Linked DNA regions of Homo sapiens: region 2 is linked to region 1. The links come from fine-mapping of genetic effects on gene expression. Tissue or cell type: whole blood. Region 1 holds a variant in brackets; the other region holds the start of a gene. All regions are shown on one strand. Distances are from middle to middle.

The links. PIP is the estimated chance that this variant, and not a neighbour inherited with it, causes the effect.
Region 2: it holds the start of TCF25, and the variant in region 1 is fine-mapped to the expression of TCF25 in whole blood (INTERVAL, PIP above 0.99). The same link has a PIP of 0.9 or more in monocytes after LPS.

The regions. Positions count from the first base shown.
Region 1 is chr16:89,891,407-89,897,053 of GRCh38, forward strand. It overlaps TCF25 (TCF25 ribosome quality control complex subunit), which reads left to right. Exons shown (of 18, transcript NM_014972.3): 6 at 787-869; 7 at 2,322-2,452; 8 at 3,632-3,731; 9 at 4,584-4,677. Among named protein-coding and RNA genes, the nearest start is that of TCF25, 21 kb to the left of the region's middle. The variant A/G (reference allele first, on the strand shown) is at 2,982.
Region 2 is chr16:89,871,218-89,876,533 of GRCh38, forward strand. TCF25 (TCF25 ribosome quality control complex subunit) reads left to right here and starts at 2,375. Exons shown (of 18, transcript NM_014972.3): 1 at 2,375-2,642. The coding sequence starts at 2,451. It overlaps SPIRE2 (spire type actin nucleation factor 2), which reads left to right. Exons shown (of 15, transcript NM_032451.2): 15 at 1-102. LOC112268179 (a long non-coding RNA gene) reads right to left here and starts at 2,271. Exons shown (of 2, transcript XR_002957933.2): 1 at 1,751-2,271; 2 at 1-704. RefSeq lists enhancers at 1,133-2,089, 1,860-2,019 and silencers at 2,100-2,219, 2,690-3,159.

The DNA of each region.
Region 1 (5,647 bases):
AGCCCGGGGCCAGGGCAGGGATGGCCCCGTGGGAAGGGAGCTGCACCGTGCTGATGGTGACCGTGGGCATGGCTGCTGCTGTCTGTGCTGCCGCGGCTGCCACGCCCCACCTGTCTGGTGCCTGTGTGCTCAGGCAGAGTGCCCTGACCTCTGTTATTTGGGGGTCTCTGCCACAGGGGTCAGGCCCACTCTAAGCACTGGTCAGCTGGTATCTGAGCTGGGCAGGTGGGGCAGCATGGAAAAGGCATGGAGCTGCTGTTACCTCAGAGATGGTTGGTTTCTTAAGTTGAGTGATGGGCATGTGGATATTAGTACGTTGTTCTCTTTCTTTTCGTTTTCTTTTTTTATTTTCCTCTTGAGACAGGGCCTTGCTCTGTCGTCCAGGCTGGAGTGCTGGGATCACAGGTGCAGGCCATCACGCCAGGCTAATTTTTAAAACCCTTTGTAGAAATGGGGTTTTGCTGTCTTGCCCAGGCCAGTCTCGAACTCCTGGGTTCAAGAAATTCTCCCATCTTGGCCTCTCAAAGTGCTGGGATTACAGGTGTGAGCCCCCGTGCCCAGCCAGAATTGTTTCTTTCTCTCTATGGGGCCCTCCCTGCTGCACCCGTCCCACAGCAGTTGCTGACGCTTGTTTGCATCCTGTCCTTAATGCGTCCCCACCCTGCCCCACATGCCTTCTCTGCCCCTCAGTTTTGCTTCCACAGCCCGTGCAGGGATCAGGCAGCCAAGCCTTGGTCCCCACACGCCACAGGAAGTAAAGCTGTACCTGTGTCCCGTTCTCCCCAGGCCACGGCAGAGACAACGTGTGTACCCCAAGTGCACATGGCTGACCACCCCTAAAAGCACCTGGCCCCGCTACAGCAAACCAGGTGAGGGTCTGCAGATGCTGCTGGGGATGGAGGGTTGGGGGGCGTTGTCTGTGCACTGGCCCCGGTACAGCAAACCAGGTGAGGGTCTGCAGAGGCTGCTGGGGGTGGAGGGCGGCGGGGGGGTGTGTTCTGTGCACTGGCCTGCGCTGGGCACCAGGGGCGTCAGTGCCTCTTGAGCCGAGACTCTTTGCTCCAGGAGCGCTCCAGGAGTGTGCAGTGTGTGACTGTTTGTTGCCACACTGAGGGCCTGAGTGCTGGAGGCCTGGCCCAGTACCTCAACACGGAGCCTCCCAGGCACAGTCTTTGTGTGACTGTCTTTTAACGCAGGTTCTTCCTACCATTCTGCCATCGACCTTTCCCTTATGGAAGCAATCGAGTTCATTTTAAACTGCAATATTTTGTATATTATTGCAAACTAATAAGTGATTTTAAGATGAATTGCAACAGTGAAGACAGGCATGGAGTGTTGGGTGCTTGGTTGTGTGGTGTGGGGAAGTGTCAGGAGGCCTTCCACACTGGCCTCCACTCTGCAGTGGCTGAACTGTGGGGGCCCTCAGGGGCCAGGGCAAGGACAGCTTGTGGGAAGGGAGCTGTGTGGTGCCCTTGGTGATCGGCATGGCTGCTGCTGTCAGCGCTGCCATGGCTCCCACGGCCGCTTCTCCTGCGCCTGTGTCTGTGGGGGTGCCGGAGATTGCCTGCATACATTCTGTAAGGACACATCTAGGAGCGAGGCCTGTGCTGTCAGAAGGTGAACCCCGCTGCTCACGGCCCCTTCCCTTCCTGGCAGGAACCCCTGCTCACTGCAGACAGGGGTTCCATGGCCATGTATTCCTGCAGGACTGGGGCCTTGGGCAGGGCCATCAAGAAGGTATCACTACAGGGGACCTAGTCCATGGAGGTCCTGGGAGGCTGAGCTTTCCAGGTTTATCAGAAGAAACTGGGTCCCATACACCCAGTCAGACAAGAGGAGCCAAGTGAGAGGGTGGTCACACGTTACAAAGCTCTGTGGCTTCAGAGGCCTGGCGCTGTGGCCACCTGTGCCACCGCACTCCAACCCTGTCCTTCCACAGCCACCCCGGACATTCTCCTCAATCAGACGTGGTCTGGGGACAGTGCTCGGCGTGGTCAGATCTGGCGATCTGTGGACTGTGTGTGTCCTTGTCCCTGACATTCCCTCCAGGCCAGTGGGGCTAGAGCTGTATCCGAGTTCTGGAGGCAAACACGTCTTGATAGGAAACTAAAGCAGACGGGATGCCGTCTCCTGGTGTAGACCAGACGGCGGGTGTTTTGGGAAGGTGTCCGGAGCTGGTGACACCCATGAGTACACACTCAGGTCAAGTTTGTCGATATCGCAGAGGCCTCATCCAGAACACCACGAAGGTGAGGGCTGTGCTCGGAGCTGCCCACGTCCCTGCTCCCGGCACACCCTCCCTGAGCACTCTCCCCTCCCAGGTCTGTCCATGCGGCTGCTGGAATCAAAAAAAGGCCTCTCCTTCTTTGCGTTTGAGCACAGTGAGGAGTACCAGCAGGCTCAGCACAAGTTCCTGGTGGCCGTGGAGTCTATGGAGCCGAACAACATCGTGGTGCGTGGTCCCTGCAGCCCCTGACAGGAGCAGGGGCCATGTAGCCACCACTGCCCTGGGCCGCCTGCTTCCCTGGTGGCTGGGGGAGGCATGCTGCCTCCTGCCCTTCCCAACAGGAAGGGTGCCAGTCTCTGCAGGGCGGTCTGGCCCTGTGACCAGAAGGAGATGTGTTCGGAGGCTCTAGGCCAAGCGAGCTCCATCCATACTCAGAGGAGAGGCTGGAGCGCTGCTCTCTCAGCCGTTCCTGGGGACCGTCGCAGTAGTGCCGTGTGATGCAGGCCCAGGACTCTGGGGCTTCTCACTGCTGCCCTTGCCTCCTGCGGCTCAGTGCAGGCGAGCAGCTCAGATTCCCGGCCCCCGTGCAGCCCCCGGACGGCCCCCACACGGCCCCGGACGGCCCCCGCGCAGCCCCAGACAGCCCCGGACCTGGACAGTCCCCGTACAGCCCCGGTGCAACCCTGGACAGCCCTCATGCAGCCCCTGGACAGCTCCCCTTGCAGCCCCGGACGGCCCCCGCGCAGCCCCAGAC[A/G]GCCCCCGGGCGGCCCTCACGCAGCCGCCGGACAGCTCCCCTTGCAACCCCGGACAGCCTCCGCAGAGCTCCCCGTCATCTCCCTGTGGGAAAAGCAGGCTGCTGCTTTCCATTCCTCTTTCTTGGGGCTTAGTGGGGAGTTAGGTGGCCCCTGGCCTGGGCATGTCAGGTTCTGAGTTCTTGCTTTAAGTCATATAATTGGTTCAGCTTAGCAATAATAACTAGCCTATTTTGAGTTGGGGGGACGTTGTGAGTGTCGACCCGGTAATTCCCCCGTTTTTGTTTTTGTTTTTGGAGTCGGAATCTCACTCTGTCGCCTAAGCTAGAGTGCATTGGCGCAGTCTCGGCCCGGGTTCAAGCGATTCGCCTGCCTCAGCCTTCCGAGTAACTGGAATTACAGGCACACGCCACCACACCCGGCTAATTTTTGTATTTTTATTAGAGACCAGGTTTTGCCACGTTGGCCAGGCTGGTCTTGAACTCCTGATATCAAGTGATCCTCCTGCCTCAGCCTCCCAAAGTGGTGGGATTACAGGCGTGAGCCACTGCGCCCAGCCTCCGCTGGTTTTAAATGTCTGAAAAAAAGGCATGCCTGGGAGCTGGGGCCTTGCTGAGTGCCTTTCCTCCAGGGCTGTCCTCCCTTCTGGTAGGTTCTGCTCCAGACGAGCCCTTACCACGTTGACTCACTCCTGCAGCTCAGCGATGCCTGCCGCTTTCAAGAGGATCAGGAGATGGCTCGAGACCTCGTAGGTAAGGCAGAGCCCCCACCCCATTCCCCTCAGCTGTGGGAGCACCTCAAGCTATCAAGACAGATGCGATGGTGTAAGATGACAGGGGTTGCCAGGATATCCATGACAGCTTTATTGAGATACAACCTACGTAGCACAAAACTTACCCATTTAAAGTTTTTGTTTGTTGGTGTTTAATATATGCCACAGCCTCCCGAGTAGCTGGGACTACAGGCGCCCGCCACCAGACCTGGCTAATTTTTTGTATTTTTAGTAGAGATGGGGTTTCACCGTGTTGGCCAGGATGGTCTCGATCTCCTGACCTTGTGATCCACCCACCTCAGCCTCCCAAAGTGCTGGGATTACAGGCATGAGCCACCACGCCCCGCCCTCTGGCTTTTATTTACAATGAAGTTTTCAAGGTTCATCCTCACTGTAGCGTCGATCAGAACGTCGTTCGTTTTTATGGCTTAGTAATACTCCACTGTGTGGACGGACCACATGTTGTGTATCCATCATTAGTTGACGGCCGTGTGGGCTGTTGTAAATAATAGTGCTTACGTCAGCATGCACACGCAGTCTTAGGTGGACACATCTGTGCTGCACACATGGACGCCTGGTTCTGTCAGGACGTGGCAGCAGTTGTGCCTCATGGTGTTGAAAGTGTTACCATGTCAAGCTCACAAGTTCTGTGGTTGAAATAAATGCAGCGTGGCATCCAGGGTGCCCAGGGGCATGTCTGCCCTCTCAGTGTCCAGGACTCTAGTTTCGTGACCTTCCGTCCAGACCTTTCCTTGTTGTCCATTATCAGAGGAGGGGCCGTGGTTGCTGTGTGTGGCCATGACACCCTCCCCTGGCGTCCCTGTGCCCACAGAGAGAGCGCTGTACAGCATGGAATGTGCGTTCCACCCCCTGTTCAGTCTCACCAGTGGGGCCTGCCGGCTGGATTACCGCAGACCCGAGAACAGGTGAGTGCAGCTGCCCTGGAGGTGACGCAGCTCCCCTTCCCTTCTCCTGCGAGTGAGGCTGGGGGAGGTGCAGTGGGCACCTCATGGCTGCCCTCCAGGGTGGACCAGGGCCCACAGGTCCAGAGTGACCCACCTTCCTCTCTCTGGGCTTAAGGATAGAGGGATGGGATTGTCTCAGCCCAGGTTTACCTTTGTCTGTGGACATGCCTGATGCTACTGTGGAGGTCAGAGTGGGAGGTCTGCTGAGCCCAGGAGTTCAAGTCCAGCCTGGGCACCATAGTGAGACCCCCATCTCTTAAAAAAATAAAAATAAAAATAAATGTTTGTGTTAGAAGTGAGCCTGGCTGGGCACAGTGGTTCACGCCTGTAATCCCAGCACTTTGGGAGGCCGAGGTGGGAGGGTTGCTTGAGCCCAGGTGTCAAGACCAGTCTGAGCACCGTGGCAACATGCAGTCTCAAAACAGCATTTTTTTTTTTTTTTTTTTTTTGAGACGGAGTCTCACTCTGTCACCCAGGCCGGAGTGCAGGGGCGCGATCTCGGCTCACTGCAAGCTCCACCTCCCGGGTTCAAGCCATTCTCCTGCCTCAGGCTCCCGAGTAGCTGGGCCTACAGGCACGTGCCACAACGCCTGGCTAATTTTTTGTATTTTCTAGTAGAGACGAGGTTTCACTGTGTTGGCCAGGATGGTCTCCATCTCCTGACCTTGCGATCCACCCGCCTCGGCCTTCCAAAATGCTGGGATTACAGGCGTGAGCCACCGCGCCCGGCCACTACAGAACATTTTAAAAACTAGCTGCGCCTGGTGGCGCGTGCCTGTGGTCCCAGCTACTTGGGAGGTTGAGGCGAGAGTATCACTCAAGTGAGCCCAGGAGGTCGAGGCTGCAGTGAGCTGAGATGGTACCAGTGCACTCCAGCCTGGGCAGCAGAGTGAGACCTTGTCTCTCAAAAAAAAAAAAAGAAGAAGAAGAA
Region 2 (5,316 bases), 20 kb before region 1:
AGAGGCTCCTGAAGATGCTGGGCGGTCCTGGCACAGGGAGGAGCAGCTCTGTAAATCTGTGCACATGGCCACTCTTGGCCTAATAAAGGAGGTCTCACAGTCTTCTGTCTGGGATGTGCGCTGAGGATTCACCCAGCATGGCATGTTCTCCCAAGGTTGAAGCTGGGCTTGAGGGGCCACCTGCCTTCCAGGACGAGGAAAGGCCTCCTGGCTTAGAGTCAGGTGCCCACCAGGCAAGGGCTCCAGGCCTGCTCTGTCCACGCAGCCCTGGCTGCCTCTACCAGCTTCGTGGTCCTGGCCACCATGGTCAGGGCTGCATGCGGACGGCACAGACTACTGCCCATCAGCTCCTCTGGCCACACCTGCTGGCCTGGGGGGTACTTTGGTCTCATTTCCCAGATCCGTATTCTCGTTCTCCAGGGAGAGGATCCACAGGGGCAGGAGGTGTGACTGCAGGCTCTAGACAGGCCCTGTGCCGAGTGCTGTCTGCTCACCTGCGCCCGGCTCAGCCTGTTAACGGGGCCCTGCCCTGCTCCTCCGTGACGTTCTGCCGTCATCTTACCTTACAGATGAGGGAACTGAGGCTCAACGAGGTCAAAGAATTTGGCCAAAGATACACAGCTCACCCAGAACTTTGACTCCAGGCTGTAATGCTAGCCGTGGGGCCTGGAGGTCAGAAGGGACAGGACTTGTAACTGATGGGCCTGCGGGAGAAAATACTCCTGTCAGCTGGGGTCCAGGAAATCCAAACACACAAAATTAGAGCCCCCAGTAAAAACAGCCAGCTTCTAGCATGCGTGTAAGCATTTCACGGACTCTCTGGCCTGTATTTTTATTCCTGTTTAAAAATAAGAAAACAGGCACAGAGAGGGTCAGGGAACTCCTCCGGTCACACAGCCAGCAATAAGCTAATGTGTAGTGCTTGGTAAGGACGACGGTTGTTCTGGTTCTACGGGGACTCACACTCCCTATCATGGGGAGACTGGGTTGTAATTCATACAGGAACACTTGGAAATGAAAGCCCACGTTAAAACCCTAAACCACGGCAGGTGCAGTGGCTCACACCTGTAATCCCAGCACTTTTGGAGGGTGAGGTGGGCAGATCACTTGAGGTCAGGAGTTCGAGACCAGCCTGGCCAACATGGTGAAACCCCATCTCTACTGAGTACAAAAATTAGCCGGGCATGGTGGCACATGCCTGTAGTCCCAGCTACTCGGGAGGCTGAGACAGGAGAAGTGCTTGAGCCTGGGAGATGGAGGTTGCAGTGAGCCGAGATTGCGCCACTGCACTCCAGCCTGGGCAACAGAGCAAGACCTCATCTCACAAAATAAAATAAAACCCTAACCCATCCTGGGAGGGGCCAGGCCGGCTCACCAGGGCTGCTGCTTGTGCTCATGAAGCCGCAGTAAGTCGGGCAGGAGGCTGCTGGCACCTGTCTTCTCTATGCCCTCCTGTCCCCATGTCCCCAACCCCAGGCACAGGAAGCTGTGCCCTCCGCCCACTGAACCCAGCACTGTCTCAGCCTCATCTACTTTATTTTTTTCATTTTTTTGAGACAGGGTCTGGCTCTGTCGCCCAGGCTGGAGTGCAGTGGCGCGATCTCGGCTCACTGCAGCCTCAGCCTCCCGAGTAGCTGGGATTACAGGCGTGCGCAGCCACGCCCAGCTAATTTTTGTATTTTTAGTAGAGGGAGTTTCACCGTGTTGCCCAACCTGGTCTCGAATTCCCGACCTCAGGTGATTCGCCCACCTTGGCCTCCCAAAGTGCTGGGATTACAAGCGTGAGCACCGCGCCCGGCCCTTAGATCGTGACAAACGCGGGCGGCCTGTCCTAGAACTGTCAGAACCACTGTCCCTAAAGAGGCCTCGGGCGGGCAGTAAGGGCCGCGTCACTCAATGCTGCTCGAGGGGCGGCGGCTCCAGGGCAGAGGCGGGCATCGACGGCTAGATCACTCGAATGACACCCTGACACGAAAAGGACCAACTAGCAACGTCCGGGACGCAGCTGAAATGCTGCAGGCACGGTGCGGGGACAGGCCCCGGCGGGCAGAACGCGGCTGCGGGTTCCGGGCCACATGGATGGGCAAGGCCGGGCAGGGCCGACTGTCGCCGGCTGCGCGCCCGTTACCCCGAATCGAAGCCCGTCATCCCCGCGGGGCACCTCTCCATGCCCGGTGCGCACGGCGCGCAGACACCCAGCTCTCCAGAGACCTGGCCCGGACCCCCCGGAGCCCGCCCAGACGCCGCCGCTGAAGCGGGAAAGTTCCGGAGAGCCGCGACGCGCAGGCGCCGCAGCCAGGTCCTGCCCCCACCCCTCGCGCCAAGAGTGCGCAGGCGCGCAGCCAGCTCCCCCGCCCCCGACCCCGCGCGAAGAGTGCGCAGGCGCGCCGACAGCCGAGTTTTCTGCGCTTCCTTCTCCCTCTCTCCAGACGTCGTGGTCGTTCGGTCCTATGTCGCGCCGGGCCCTCCGGAGGCTGAGGGGGGAACAGCGCGGCCAGGAGCCCCTCGGGCCCGGCGCCTTGCATTTCGATCTCCGTGATGACGATGACGCGGAAGAAGAAGGGCCCAAGCGGGAGCTTGGTGTCCGGCGTCCCGGGGGCGCAGGGAAGGAGGGCGTCCGAGTCAACAACCGCTTCGAGCTGGTGAGGAGCGCGGCGGCCCGGGTGGGGGTGGGGTGGCCCTTGACGTTGTGGGGCGGGGCGAGCGTCCAGCCGGGTCGGGGAGCGGGGTTGTGATGCCAGGGGTGGGAAGGGTGACGTGGGTCCCAGCCGCAGTGGGGAGGGCGGGGCCGTGCGTCGGGGCCAGGGCGACGCGGGTGGGCGGTGGCGTGGGGTGAAGACGGCGGGCCGCGGAGTTAGACTGGGTTCTAACCCCGGTGAGGTGGGCGGGGCTAAGGGATGGGGCGGGGCCGTGCTGTCGGGGCGGGGCGACCGAATGGGCGGGGTTAAGCGGGGTCCGGGTTGTGGAGGGTGCGGGGCCTTGATGCCAAGGGCGTGGCCAACGTCCGCGGGGCCGGGCCACGACGTGGGCGGGATTAAATGGGCCTGCGGCCACGTGGCTGTCGTGGGGCCGTGACGCTAAAGGGCGTGGCTAAAGACGGGGGGGTGGCGAGGCGATGGCGTGGGCGGGGTTAAATGAGGCCTGGGGCCACCGTGGGGGTGGGGCCACGGCGTAGGGGCAGGAGTCGGGTGGGGCTTCCCTTTCTCGAGTCTAGAGGGGCCTTCTCTCGGTTCCAGGGTTGAGGACTTGCCAGGCCTCTGCGAGCATTCTGCTTTAATCCTCACAACAACTCTGCCTAACCCAGGGCCTTGCTCTTCGCGCATCCCCATCAGCCTAACCCAGCGGATTAGTCTTACTCTTTGCTGCATCTCCGGCAGCTCGTTTCTGGCACAGGGAAGTAACAGTTTGACTGTATGGTTTGCTCATGCGGTCCTGTGACGTTTTCTCCTAAGCCCTGGCCTCCGTCTGTAACTCTGCCTCTGCGGGCTCTGCGATCCTCCCACCTCAGCCTCCTGAGTATCTAGGACTACAGGTGGATGTCACCACGCCCGGCTAATTTTTTTTTTTTTTCTTTTTTGTAGAGAAGAGTTTTCGCCTTGTTGCCCAGGCTGGTCTAGAACTTCTGCGCTCAAACAATCTGTCCACCTCAGCCTCACAAAGTGCTGGGACTACAGGCGTGAGTCACCATGCTTGGTTGACTGCCCTTCTCGCATCAAGTCCACCTTTAGTGGTCCCCAAGACCCCCGTCAAGGTTCAGTAATTTGCTAGATTCACAGCAGTTACTGAAAGCTTTTTGTTTTGAGATGGAATCTTGCTCTGTTGCCCAGGCTGGAGTGCATTGGCACAATCCTAGCTCACTGCAACCTTGAACTCCTGGGCTCAAATAGTCCTCTCACCTTGGCCTCTCAGAGTGTTGGCATTAGAGGCATGAGCCACTGTGCTTGGCCCCGTAAGTCTTTTTAAATTTTTGTCAATGTAATTTGTGAAAAATGATATCACATTATTTTATTTTACACTTCTTTGGTAGTGAAATGCAGCACCTAGCTATGTATTCGTTGACCATTTATATTTCTCTTTGTGACAACCTGTTTATATCTTTGCCTTTTTATAGGGGGTTTGGACAGTCTTTTTGCTCGTGGAAGCTTGCTATCGATTGTCTCTAACGTATTTTCTCGGTTTGTGTTTGTTCTTTAACTTCTTTAATTTCTGCGTGCTGAAAGATACTGGAGCCACTTTTCTCATTGTTACACATCCATCTCTCTAGAGTGTCTTCACATAGATATTCCCTGACGTGAGTTTTTTTTTTTTTTTTTTTTTTTTTTTGAGATGGAGTCTCGCTCTGTCGCCCAGGCTGGAGTGCAGTGGCATGATCTCGGCTCACTGCAAGCTCCGCCTCCTGGGTTCACGCCATTCTCCTGCCTCAGCCTCCCAAGTAGCTGGGAACACAGGCGCCCGCCACCACGCCTGGCTAATTTTTTGTATTTTTAGTAGAGATGGGGTTTCACCATGTTAGCCAGGATGGTCTCGATCTCCTGACCTCGTGATCCGCCTGCCTCGGCCTCCCAAAGTGCTGGGATTACAGGCGTGAGCCACTGCGCCTGGCTTTTTTTTTTTTTTTTTTTTTTTTTTTTGGTTACAGACAGGGTCTCACGGTGTTGCCCAGGCTGGTTGCTGGTCTTGAACTCCTGGGTTCAGGTTATCCTCCTGCCTCAGCCTCCTGAGCAGCTGGGACTACAGCATACCCTACCATGCTCAGCTTGTTCTTTTAATGCTTTTTTTTTCCCATTTAAATATTTAATCTTTTTGGTATTTATATTTGTGTTGGTGGGAATTTGGAAAAAGTGTGGTTCATGAGTTGACAGAGTAAGAGTCTGTAAGGTCAGAAACCACACAAACCCTTGTGGACTTTCTGGAGTGAGTTTGAGTGTCAGTAACACTAACAGCCTCCATGGATGAATGACTGCTTATCGTGCTGTGTTCTTAGGAATTTCAGAGAATTTTATCCAGTGGCACACATCAGTCTTAATTTAAGCATTCCATACTTTTTTGCTCTTAAAACTCATATTTGGAAATAATATAATCAAAATGTTTATTGGCATTCTGTTAAATAGCTCTTAATAAACAGAAGTATGGGAGACAGTAAACAGCCAGTTACGACTAAATGGTTATGAATGTGAATGCATTGGTGAGAGACATGGTGTTTCTCTTTTTAAAAAATTTTATTTATTTAGAGACAAGATCTCTTTATGTTGCCTAGGTTGGTCTTAAACTCCTGGGCTCAAGAGATCCTTCCGCCTTGGCCTCCCAAAGTGCTGG